2 separate regions of the Homo sapiens genome follow, and region 2 is linked to region 1. The links come from fine-mapping of genetic effects on gene expression. Tissue or cell type: left ventricle. Region 1 holds a variant in brackets; the other region holds the start of a gene. All regions are shown on one strand. Distances are between the middles of the regions.

Region 1 (5,148 bases):
GTCATGCCTATAATACCAGCTCTTTGGGAGGCCTAGGCAGGTGAATCACTTGAGGTCAGGAGCTCAAGACTAGCCTGATCAATGTGGTAAAACCCTGTCTTTACTAAAAATACAAAATTAGCCAGGCGTGGTAGCGCACTCCTATAATCCCAGTTAGAGGAAGGAGAACTGCTTGAACCCAGGAAGTGGAGGTTGCAGTGAGCCGAGATTGCGCCATTGCACGCCAGCCTGTGCAACAAGAGAGAAACTCTGTCTCAAAAAAAAAAAAAAAGATACAAATTGAAAAATTGAAATATTTATGAGTCAATTATATGATACCCAGTATTCTTTCTTTCTTTCCCGCTCTCATTTTTTTCTCTTTCTTTTTTTTGAGACGGAGTCTCACTCTGTCACCCAGGCTGGAGTGCAGTGGCGTGATCTCCACTCACTGCAACCTCTGCCTCCCAGGTTCAAGCGATTTTCCTCCCTCAGCCTCCTGAGTAGCTGGGATTACAGGCGCCCGCCACCACGCCCGGCTAATTTTTGTATTTTTAAGTAGAGACGGGGTTTCATCATGTTGGTCAGGCTGGTCTCGAACTCCTGACCTCAGGTGATCTGCCCACCTCGGGCTCCCAAAGTGTTGGGATTACAGGCATGAGCCACTGCGCCCATCTCAGTGCATATTTTCTGGATGAACAAACGTGTACCTCTCCACAATCCCGTCTTTCTCCAAGCCTCAGTTTCCTCCCCTGTGAAACAGGGTGAATCTCTCCTGTGGGAAGTGTGAAGTGGGGGCTTCATATAGACAGCCTCCCCGCTCTCAGCTCAGGCCCGGGTGGAGGGGGTGCCCTCTTTCCAGGATTAATGGTGTCCCTGCCTCTGGGATTCAGATTCTGGCTCCACTGGGCATTCGGATCCTGAATCCCAGAAGGTCTCAGGGCTGAGCCCCGGAGCTCTGAGCTGAGGAGACCCTGAGTTAGGGACTGGGGGCACTCAGCCAGTTTGTGGAGGGGGTCTGAAGTACCAGCTAGGGGGAGGGGTGGGGACCAGGACAGGGTTAGAGCCCCAGACCCCAGGGGTGCCCCAGAGAGGAAAATTGGGGAGGGGGATGGGCTAGGGAGCCTCTCGCCTGCCTCTATCTCTCTGTTTCTTCCCCATTCTCTTTCTAAGTCTCTGTCTCTGTCTTTCTCTGTCTCTAGGTCTCTCTGAGTCTCTTTTTATCTCTGACTACCTCTTTTGATCTCTATTGGTCTCCTTTCTCTTGTTTTCTCTCTGTCTCTTTGAATCTACTTTTATCCCTGTCTTTCTTTCCCTCTCTCTCTCTCTCTAAGTCTCTTTGTCTCTCTCTCTCTCTCTCTTTTTTGGCGGGGGGACAGTCTCCCTCTGTCTCCCAGGCTGGAGTGCAGTGGTGCAATCTCGGTTCACTGCAACCTCTGCCTCCCGGGTTCAAGCGATTCTCCTGCCTCAGCCTCCCGAGTAGCTGGGATCACAGGCGCCCGCCACCACGCCCGGCTAATTCTCCATCTCTCTGAGTCTCCTTTTATCTCTGACTATCTCTTTCTATCTCTGTCTCTGTTGTTCTCTCTCTCTCTAGGTCTGTGTCTCTCTATCTCTCTGAGTCTGTATCTCTGTGGGTCTCCTCTGTCTCTCTGAGTCTCCCTTTATCTCTGACTGTCTCTGTCCATCTCTCTGTGTTTCTGTCTTTGCCACCTTCTGCGTGAGTCTCTCCGTGTCTTTTATCTGTCTGACTCCAGCTCAGCTTCTCTGTGTGGGTCTCTTTCTATCTCTCTTGGTTTCTCTCTTTCTCTCCTCACCTCCTCTGTCTCCCCTTCCCAGGCTCCACTTCTTTCCCCCACCTCTTCCTGGGTCCAGGTGCGGGCCCCCTCCCCGCCTCCACCCTGCCCTCCTCTGGCGGTGTCAGCCCTTCCCGTCCAAGCCAGAAAAAGCAGCCAGGCCAGGGCAGGGCAGCCAGCCAGCCTCTCTGCTGGGGACCCCAGGGACTCCAGCAGGACTCCCGCCTCCCTGGCCTGATCCCCAGGGGCTCTGCCCCCCCCTCCCCGCCGCAGAAGCCCTGCCTCCCTCAGCGCCTCTTCCCTTCCTCTGCCTAGAGGTCCTGTGTTATTGCTGCTGGCACC[T/C]GAGGCTGCAGAAAAAAAAAAGGAAGTCGCAGTCACCGTGGCTCCTACTTGTCCTTCTCTCTGCCCCAAGTCCTCGGAGCATGAAAAACTCCACCTCCGTGTGAGAACAACACAGTGGGTGCTTCATAGTTGTTTGCGGAATAAACAAACACGTATTGAGTGCCTACTGTGTGCCAAACAGTATTTGAGGTACAGGGGACACTGTGGCATTCAAGACAGACAGAAGTCTGCCCTCCTGGAGTTGACATTCCAGAGCAGGAGGCAGATAGGAACAAGCACACATTGTACCATGTTGAGTAGTGCCTGCCTGCAAAAATAAATTCAAAAATTACATACACTTCGGTTGGGACCGGTGGCTCAGGCCTGTACTCCCAGCACTTTGGGAGGCTGAGGCGGGTGGATCACGAGGTCAGGAGATCGAGACAATCCTGGCTAACACAGTGAAACCCCGTCTCTACTAAAAATACAAAAAATTAGCTGGGCGTGGCAGTACGCGTCTGTAGTCCCAGCTACTCGAGAGGCTGAGGCAGGAGAATCGCTTGAATCTGGAAGGCAGAGGTTGCAGTGAGCCAAGATCATCCCAGTGTACTCCAGCCTGGGCGACAGAGCGAGACTCTGTCTCAAAAAAAAAAAAAAAAAAAAAAAAATACATACACCTCGGTTGGGCGCGGTGGTTCAAGCCTGTAATCTCAGCATTTTGGGAGGATGAGGTGGACGAATCACTTGAGGTCAGGAATTTGAGACCAGCCCGGCCAACATGGTGAAACCCCGTCTCTACTAAAAATACAAAAATTAGCCAGGCATGGTGGTGAGTGCCTGTAATCTCAGCTATTCAGGAGGCCGAGGCAGGGGAATCACTTGAACCTGGGAGGCAGAGGTTGCAGTGAGCTGAGATTGTGCCACTGCACTCCAGCCTAGGCAACAAGAGTGAAACTCCATCTCAAAATAAATAAATAAATAGAAATTAAAATAAAAGCCCGGGCGCGATGGCTCATGCCTGTAATCCCAGCACTTTGGGAGGCCGAGGTGGGTGGAACATGAGGTCAGGAGATCGAGACCATCCTGGCCAACATAGAGAAATCTTGTCTCTACTAAAATACAAAAAAAAAAAATATATATTAGCCAGGCATGGTGACACACGGCTGTAGTCCAAGCTACTCAGAAGGCTGAGGCAGGGGAATCATTTGAACCCAGGAGGCAGAGGTTGCAGTGAGCCAAGATCGCGCCACTGCACCCCAGCCTCGTGACGAGCGAGACTGCGTCTCAAAAATAAATAAATAAATAGGTCGGGCACGGTGGCTCACACCTGTAATAATCTCAGCACTTTGGGAGGCCGAGGCAGATGGATCACTTGAGGTCAGGAGTTCGAGGCCAGCCTGGCCAACATGATGAAACCCCGTCTCTACTAAAAATACAAAAATTAGCCGGGGGTGGTAGCACACGCCTGTAGTCCCAGCTACTCGGGAGGCTGAGACAGGAGAACCGCTTGAACCCAGAAGGCAGAGGTTGCAGTAAGCCAAGATCACACAACTGCACTCCAGCCTGGGTGGCAGAGTGAGACTTGGTCTCAGGAAAAAGATCATAAGTAATAAAAATACAAATACAAAAATTAGCCGGGCATGGTGGCAGCTGCCTGTAATCCTAGCTACTCAGGAGGCTGAGGCAGGAGAATCACGTCAACCGGGGAGGTAAAGGCTGCAGTGAGCCGAGATCACACCACTGCACTCCAGCCTGGGCAACAGAGTGAGACCCTGTCTGAAAAAAAAAAATTATACACACCCAGAACCTCAGAATATGAGCTTTTTTGGAAATAGGGTCTTTGCAGATGTAATTGATTCAGGACCTCGAGATGAAATTCATCTGCAGGCTTCATGGTCCTTTGCTGTGTTATCTTGCTTTGAACAACCCGTACACGGGAACTAATTCAATTTTTTGTTTTGAGATGGGGTCTCACTCTGCCACCCAGGCTGGAGTGCAGAGACACAATCATTGCTCACTACAGCCTCGACCTCCTGGGCTGAAGCAATCCTCCCATCTCAGCCTCCCAAGTAGCTGGACTATAGATGTGCGCCACCACACCTGGCTAATTTTTTTATTTTTTTTGTGATGGGGGTCTGACTATGTTGCCCAGGTTGGTCTTTAACTCCTGGCCTCAAGTGATCCTCCCACTTCAGCCTCCCAAAGCACTGGGATTACAGGTAGGAGCCCCCCCCGCCACAACCCAGGCTGCGCTCATTCTTTTTTCTTTTTTTTGAGATGGAGTTTTGCTCTGTTGCCCACACTGGAGTGCAATGGCGCAATCTCGGCTCACCACAACCTCCGCCTTCCGGGTTCAAGCAATTCTCCTGCCTCAGCCTCCCGAGTAGTTGGGATCACAGGCACCCGCTACCACGCCCAGCTAATTTTTGTATTTTTAGTAGATTTGGGGTTTCACCATGTTGGCCAGGCTGGTCTGGAACTCCTGACCTCAGGTGATCCACCCACCTCAGCTTCCCAAAGTGCTGGGATTACAGGCGTGAGCCACCGCACCTGGCCTCATTCTTAACCAGGCCTCGACAATCCTCTTCCCTTCCCTTCTTCAGGACCGAATTTCGAGTCATCATTCCAATCTCAGTGTATGTGTTGCCTCCTCCAGGAAGCCCACCCTGATGTCTCCCCTGGCCCCCACTGGAGGGCGTCTTGTCCCTACTGTTTCCTCGAACCCAGCACATGACCTAGCACACAGCTGGTGCTCAATAAATGTCTGCGGCTTGCATGACAAGGGGCTGCTCTCCCCGATCTGTAAATAGCCCTGGCCTAATGATAAACATAATGAGCTCACACACGGGGACTCATAATTGTGACAGGCAGGTGGGCCCTGGTGGCCACGTGACCCCTCAGCTCCAGCCCGCGCCGGGCTCAGCCCAGCGCCTGCGCCCACGGCAGAGCCACAGCCTCCTCATTAAAGCAGGCCTTTTACTTAGGCAGGCGCTGCCAATTCTAATTGATTGTCTGCGTCCCTGGGGGCACTCGAGTTCCCGAGGTCAGCAGCTGG
Region 2 (5,148 bases), 49 kb after region 1:
GGCCAACATTGTGACACCCCGTCTGTACTAAAAATACAAAAATTAGCTGGGCGTGGTGGCACGTGGCTGTGGTGTCAGGTACTTGGGAAGTTGAGGCGGGAGGATCACTTGAACCCGGGAGGCAGAGATTGCGGTGAACCAAGATCATGCCACTGCACTCCAGCCTGGGTGACAGAGCGAGACTCCATCTCAAAAAAATAATAAGAATGAAGGAGGCTGGGCATGGAGGCTCACACCTGTAGTCCCAGCACTTTGGGAGGCCGAGGTGTGTGGATTGCATGAGGTCAGGAGTTCAAGATCAGCCAGACCAACATGGTGAAACCCCATGTATACTAAAAATACAAAAAAAAAATTAGCCGGGCGTGGTGGCGTGCACCTGGAGTCCCAGCTACCTGGGAGGCTGAGAAAGGAGAATCGCTTGAACCCAGGAGGCGGAGGTTGCAGTGAGCTGAGATCGTGCCACTGCACTCCAGCCTGGGAGACAGAGCGATATTGTCTCAAAACAAGAAAAAAAAAAAAAGGGGAAGGAAACCCTGACACAGGTCACAGTGTGGATGCATCTTGAGGCAATCCCGCTCAGTGAGAGAGCCAGACACGCAAGGACAAACACTGTGTGACCCACTCCTAGGAAGTCCCTAGAGTCATCAGGTTCACTGAGACAGTAGGATGGGAGGTGCCAGGGGCTGGGGAGGGGGGTGAGGAGTGAGTGTTTCATGGGGACAGAATTTCAGTTTGGGAAGTCGAGAAAGTTCTGGAGATGGTGGTGGTGATGGGTGCACAATTATGTGGATGTTCTTAATGCTAGTGAACTGTGTGTACTTAAAAACAGTTAAGGGCCCACCGGGCACCGTGGCTCACAACTGTAATCCCAGCACTTTGGGAGGCCGAGGCGGGTGGATCACCTGAGGTCAGGAGTTCAAGACCAGCCTGGCCAATATGGTGAAACCTTATCCCTACTAAAAATACAAAAATTGGCCGGGGGCAGTGGCTCATGCCTGTAATCCCAGCACTTTGGGAGGCCGAGGTGGGTGGATCACCTGAGGTCAGGAGTTCAAAACCAGCCTGGCCAATATGGTGAAACCTTATCCCTACTAAAAATACAAAAATTAGCCGGGTATGGTGGCGGGCACTTGTGATCCCAGCTACTTGGGAGGCTGAGACAGGAGAATTGCTTGAACCCGGGAAGCTGAGGTTGCAGTGAGCCGAGATCACGCCATTGCACTCCAGCCTGGGCGACAGAGCAGGACTCTTGTCTCCAAAAAAAAAAAAAAAAAAAAAAAAGAGCACTCACCCCTTGGGGGTGCTGTGAAGATTAAATGAGTTAATTTAAGTACTTATGATAATGCCTGGCACCTAGCAAGTGCTTTATGTTTGCTAGGTGTTTTTTTGTCGTTGTTTTAATTTAAATTAATTTTATTTTTTTTGAGATAGGGTCTCACTCGGTCGCCCAGACTGGAGTACAGTGGACCAATTATAACTCATTGCATTCTTGAACTCCTGGGCTCAAGCAATCATCCTGCTTCAGCCTCACAAGTAGCTGGGACTACAGGCACGTGCCACCATGCCTGGTTAATTTTTTATGTTCTGTAGAGATTATGGGGGCGTGTCTCGCTATGTTGCCCAGGCTGGTCTCAAACTCCTGAGCTCAAGTGATCCTCTTGCCTTGGCCTCACAAAGTGCTTTACAAAATTAATACAAAAATTAACCGGGCGTGGCAGTGCACACCTGTAATCCCAGCTTTTCAGGAGGCTGAGACACGAGAATTGCTTGAACCTGGGAGGTGGAGGTTGCAGTGAGCCGAGATCATACCACTGCATCGCAGCCTGGGTGACAGAGTGAGACTCTGTCCACCTTCCCCTGCGTCCCCCACCCCCGGCAAAAAAAAAAGTCAGGCTTGGTGGTGCACACCTATGGTCCTAGCTACTCGGGAGGTTGAGGTAGGAGGATTGCTTGAGCCTGGAAGTTCAAGGCTGCAGTGAGTGGTGATTGTGCCACCGTACTCCAGCCTGGGCAACAGAGCCAGACCCTGTCTCTTAATGTTTAAAGAAATAGTTTCTAGAATTAAATATTATTCTGATAAAACACAAGATGAAAGACACAGCATGTCATACCCATTAGGATGGCGACTGTCAAAAAACCAAAAGGTGGCCGAGCGTGGTGGCTCACACCTGTAATCCTCGCACTTTGAGAGGGCAAGGCGAGTGGATCACCTGAGGTCAGGAGTTCGAGACCAGCCTGGCCAACATGGTGAAACCCCATCTGTACTAAAAATACAAAAATTAGCTGGGCGTGGTGGCACGTGGCTGTGGTCTCAGGTACTTGGGAAGTTGAGGCGGGAGGATCGCTTGAGCCTGGGAGGCAGAGATTGCTGTGAACCAAGATCATGCCACTGCACTCCAGCCTGGGTGACAGAGCGAGACTCCATCTCAAAAAAATAATAAGAATGAAGGAGGCTGGGCATGGTGGCTCACACCTGTAATCCCAGCAGTTTGGGAGGCCGAGGTGGGTGGATAGCATGAGGTCAGGAGTTCAAAACCAGTTTGACCAACATGGTGAAACGCCATGTGTACTAAAAATACAAAAAAATTTAGCCGGGCATGGTGGCATGCACCTGGAGTCCCAGCTACCTGGGAGGCTGAGAAGAATCGCTTGAACCCGGGAGGGGGAGGTTGCAGTGAGCTGAGATGGCACCACTGCACTCCAGCCTGGGCGACAGAGCAAGACTCTGTCTCAAATAATAATACTACTAATAATAGTTAAATGAAAATGGTTAAGATGACAGCTTTTATGTTATATATATTTTAGCCATTTTTTTTTAAAGGCACAGGGCAGACAGGGCTCTTAGTTAGGTTCTGGGGTAGGGGGCTAGAAAGGCCCGTGGCATGAGGGGAGGGTAGGCCGAAGTGGGGTCTGAGGTCAGGGGCCTTGAATCCCAGGGAGAGGCTGGGGCCTGGACTCAGGGGTCCCTGGGAGCCACAGGAGGCTGTAGAGCAGGGGAGGAGCCAGGGAAGGAAATTCTGAAGGAAACAGGGCCGTGCCCTGAACACACGTGGAATCCGGGTGTTCGCTGAGTCACAAATCCTGGAAGCTCAGGGTCGTGAAGAGGAAGTCCAGCCGCGCTATGCGAGGTCTTCCTGTTTTTGGAGGGGGCAGGCACCCCAGGGCCGATTGTCGCGAATCACCTTCACCTCTGGGGGCTCAGAATCCCTGAGCCAGAAGGCCAGGGCAGGGCTGGGGGATACCCCTGCTGCTCAGACAGGAAAATGGGCTCGGAGCTTGCCCAATACTTCCCAGAAGGACGAGGCTGCTGAACTTCTCATTCGGGGCTCCGGGACCTGGACTGTACCCCTTTCTGGTAGGGGGTGCTCTGAACTGGGACCTTCAGCATGGAGGGCGGGGGTTCAGAGGGTGAATTCCGCTGCTATGTCATTACCTGGATGGGAGAGTGTCTCCACTCCACACACCTAGAAGTTTCTGCAAAGTTACCTTGAATGGGAGTGGGAAGCAGTCCCCCGTGAGAGGTAGTGAGGTGCCTGTCATGGAGGTGTGCAAGCGGAGAATGAAAAGGCTGGATTTGGGAAGGAGGTCAGATCTACCAGGGTCACAGAGGCCCTTGGCATGGGGAATATTCTGTGATTCTGTGGTTATGTAGTACTGTCATTCCCAGCTTGTGGCTTTTTTTTTTTTTTTTTGGATGGAGTCTTGCTCTGTTGCCCAGGCTGGAGTGCAGTGGTGCGATCTTGGCTCACTGCAACCTCCACCTCCTGGGTTCAAGGGATTCTCCTGCCTCAGCTCTCCAGTAGCAGGGATTACGGGCACAGGCCACCATACCTGGCTAATTTTTGTATTTTTTTGTAGAGACAGGGTTTCGCTATGTTAGGCAGGCCGGTCTTGAACTCCTGACCTCAGATGATCCTCCCATCTCGGCCTCCCAAAATGTTGGGATTACAGGCGTGAGCCACCACACACAGCCAGCTTGTGGCTTATAAAATTCCAAGAGCCTTTGACTCTTTTTTTTTTTAGCCTTTGAGTTTAATATTTTTGTGTTTTAATTCTAAGTATTTTTATGCATGTATTTTGCGATTGCATTTTTAAATATATGTTTTAGGATATTTGTATCTATTATTATAATAATTATTATTAGTTTTAAATTACCGAATGCAGTTTTGTTTGAAGTCGTTTCCTGGGCTTTCACGCACACGTGGCCATAAAGTTGTTCTGATAATTAAATCAGTGCTGTGTATTATTATTATTATTGCCATTATTGTTTTTATTAATTATTATCCCCGTGAGGAATTTTTCTGGGATTTGAAGGAGCGTCTGCTGCTCTCGCCCGCCGTCTTGTGGCCACGAGCGGGACTGCAGGCCGCTCACCTCGCCGCCCCTTGCCCGCAGGCGTCACCTCCTCCTGTCGCCTGGCCCTCGCCATGCAGACCCCGCGAGCGTCCCCTCCCCGCCCGGCCCTGCTGCTTCTGCTGCTGCTACTGGGGGGCGCCCACGGCCTCTTTCCTGAGGAGCCGCCGCCGCTTAGCGTGGCCCCCAGGGACTGTGAGTCTGGGGGTGTCTTTGGGCGGGGGTGGAGTCCCGTGGGAGTATCTGGGTTCCCAGTTGGGTCTGCTGCCCCCACTGGGGGACTCAAGCAGTCCAGGAGCCACCCCTAGAAGGGGCATGACCTCAGGCCACCCTCTCTTCACCCCCAGCCCTTGCTCACACCCCTCTCCACCCCCTCACTCAGACCTGAACCACTATCCCGTGTTTGTGGGCAGCGGGCCCGGACGCCTGACCCCCGCAGAAGGTGCTGACGACCTCAACATCCAGCGAGTCCTGCGGGTCAACAGGACGCTGTTCATTGGGGACAGGTATTGCTGGGGACAGCAAGGAGGCCTGTGTGACGAGCAGAATGAGCGAGGGGGAGAGAGAGAGGAGGCGAGGGCAGGGAGGGGATGGAGCAGGTCGTGCAGGGCCTGTTGGGCCATTGGGAGGACTTAGGCTTTGACCCGGAGGAAGGTGGGAGCCACGGAGGGTTTTAGGTAGGGGAAGGACTGGACCTGACTCAGGTGCTCACACGCGCCCGCCCTCTGGTGGCTGCTTCTGGGAGGGGGCGAGAATGGAATCCAGGGGACCAGGGTGGAGGGGACTGGGCTGTCC

Evidence for each region. PIP is the estimated chance that this variant, and not a neighbour inherited with it, causes the effect. A credible set is the group of variants that fine-mapping cannot tell apart.
Region 2: SEMA6B starts here. The variant in region 1 is the best candidate, but not a certain one, in a credible set for the expression of SEMA6B in left ventricle (GTEx, PIP 0.50).

The regions. Positions count from the first base shown.
Region 1 is chr19:4,607,193-4,612,340 of GRCh38, reverse strand. No RefSeq gene overlaps it. Among named protein-coding and RNA genes, the nearest start is that of TNFAIP8L1, 30 kb to the left of the region's middle. RefSeq lists enhancers at 4,497-5,054, 5,055-5,148. The variant T/C (reference allele first, on the strand shown) is at 2,115.
Region 2 is chr19:4,557,737-4,562,884 of GRCh38, reverse strand. It overlaps SEMA6B (semaphorin 6B), which reads left to right and starts at 3,201. Exons shown (of 17, transcript NM_032108.4): 1 at 3,201-3,355; 2 at 4,396-4,548; 3 at 4,736-4,859. The coding sequence starts at 4,428.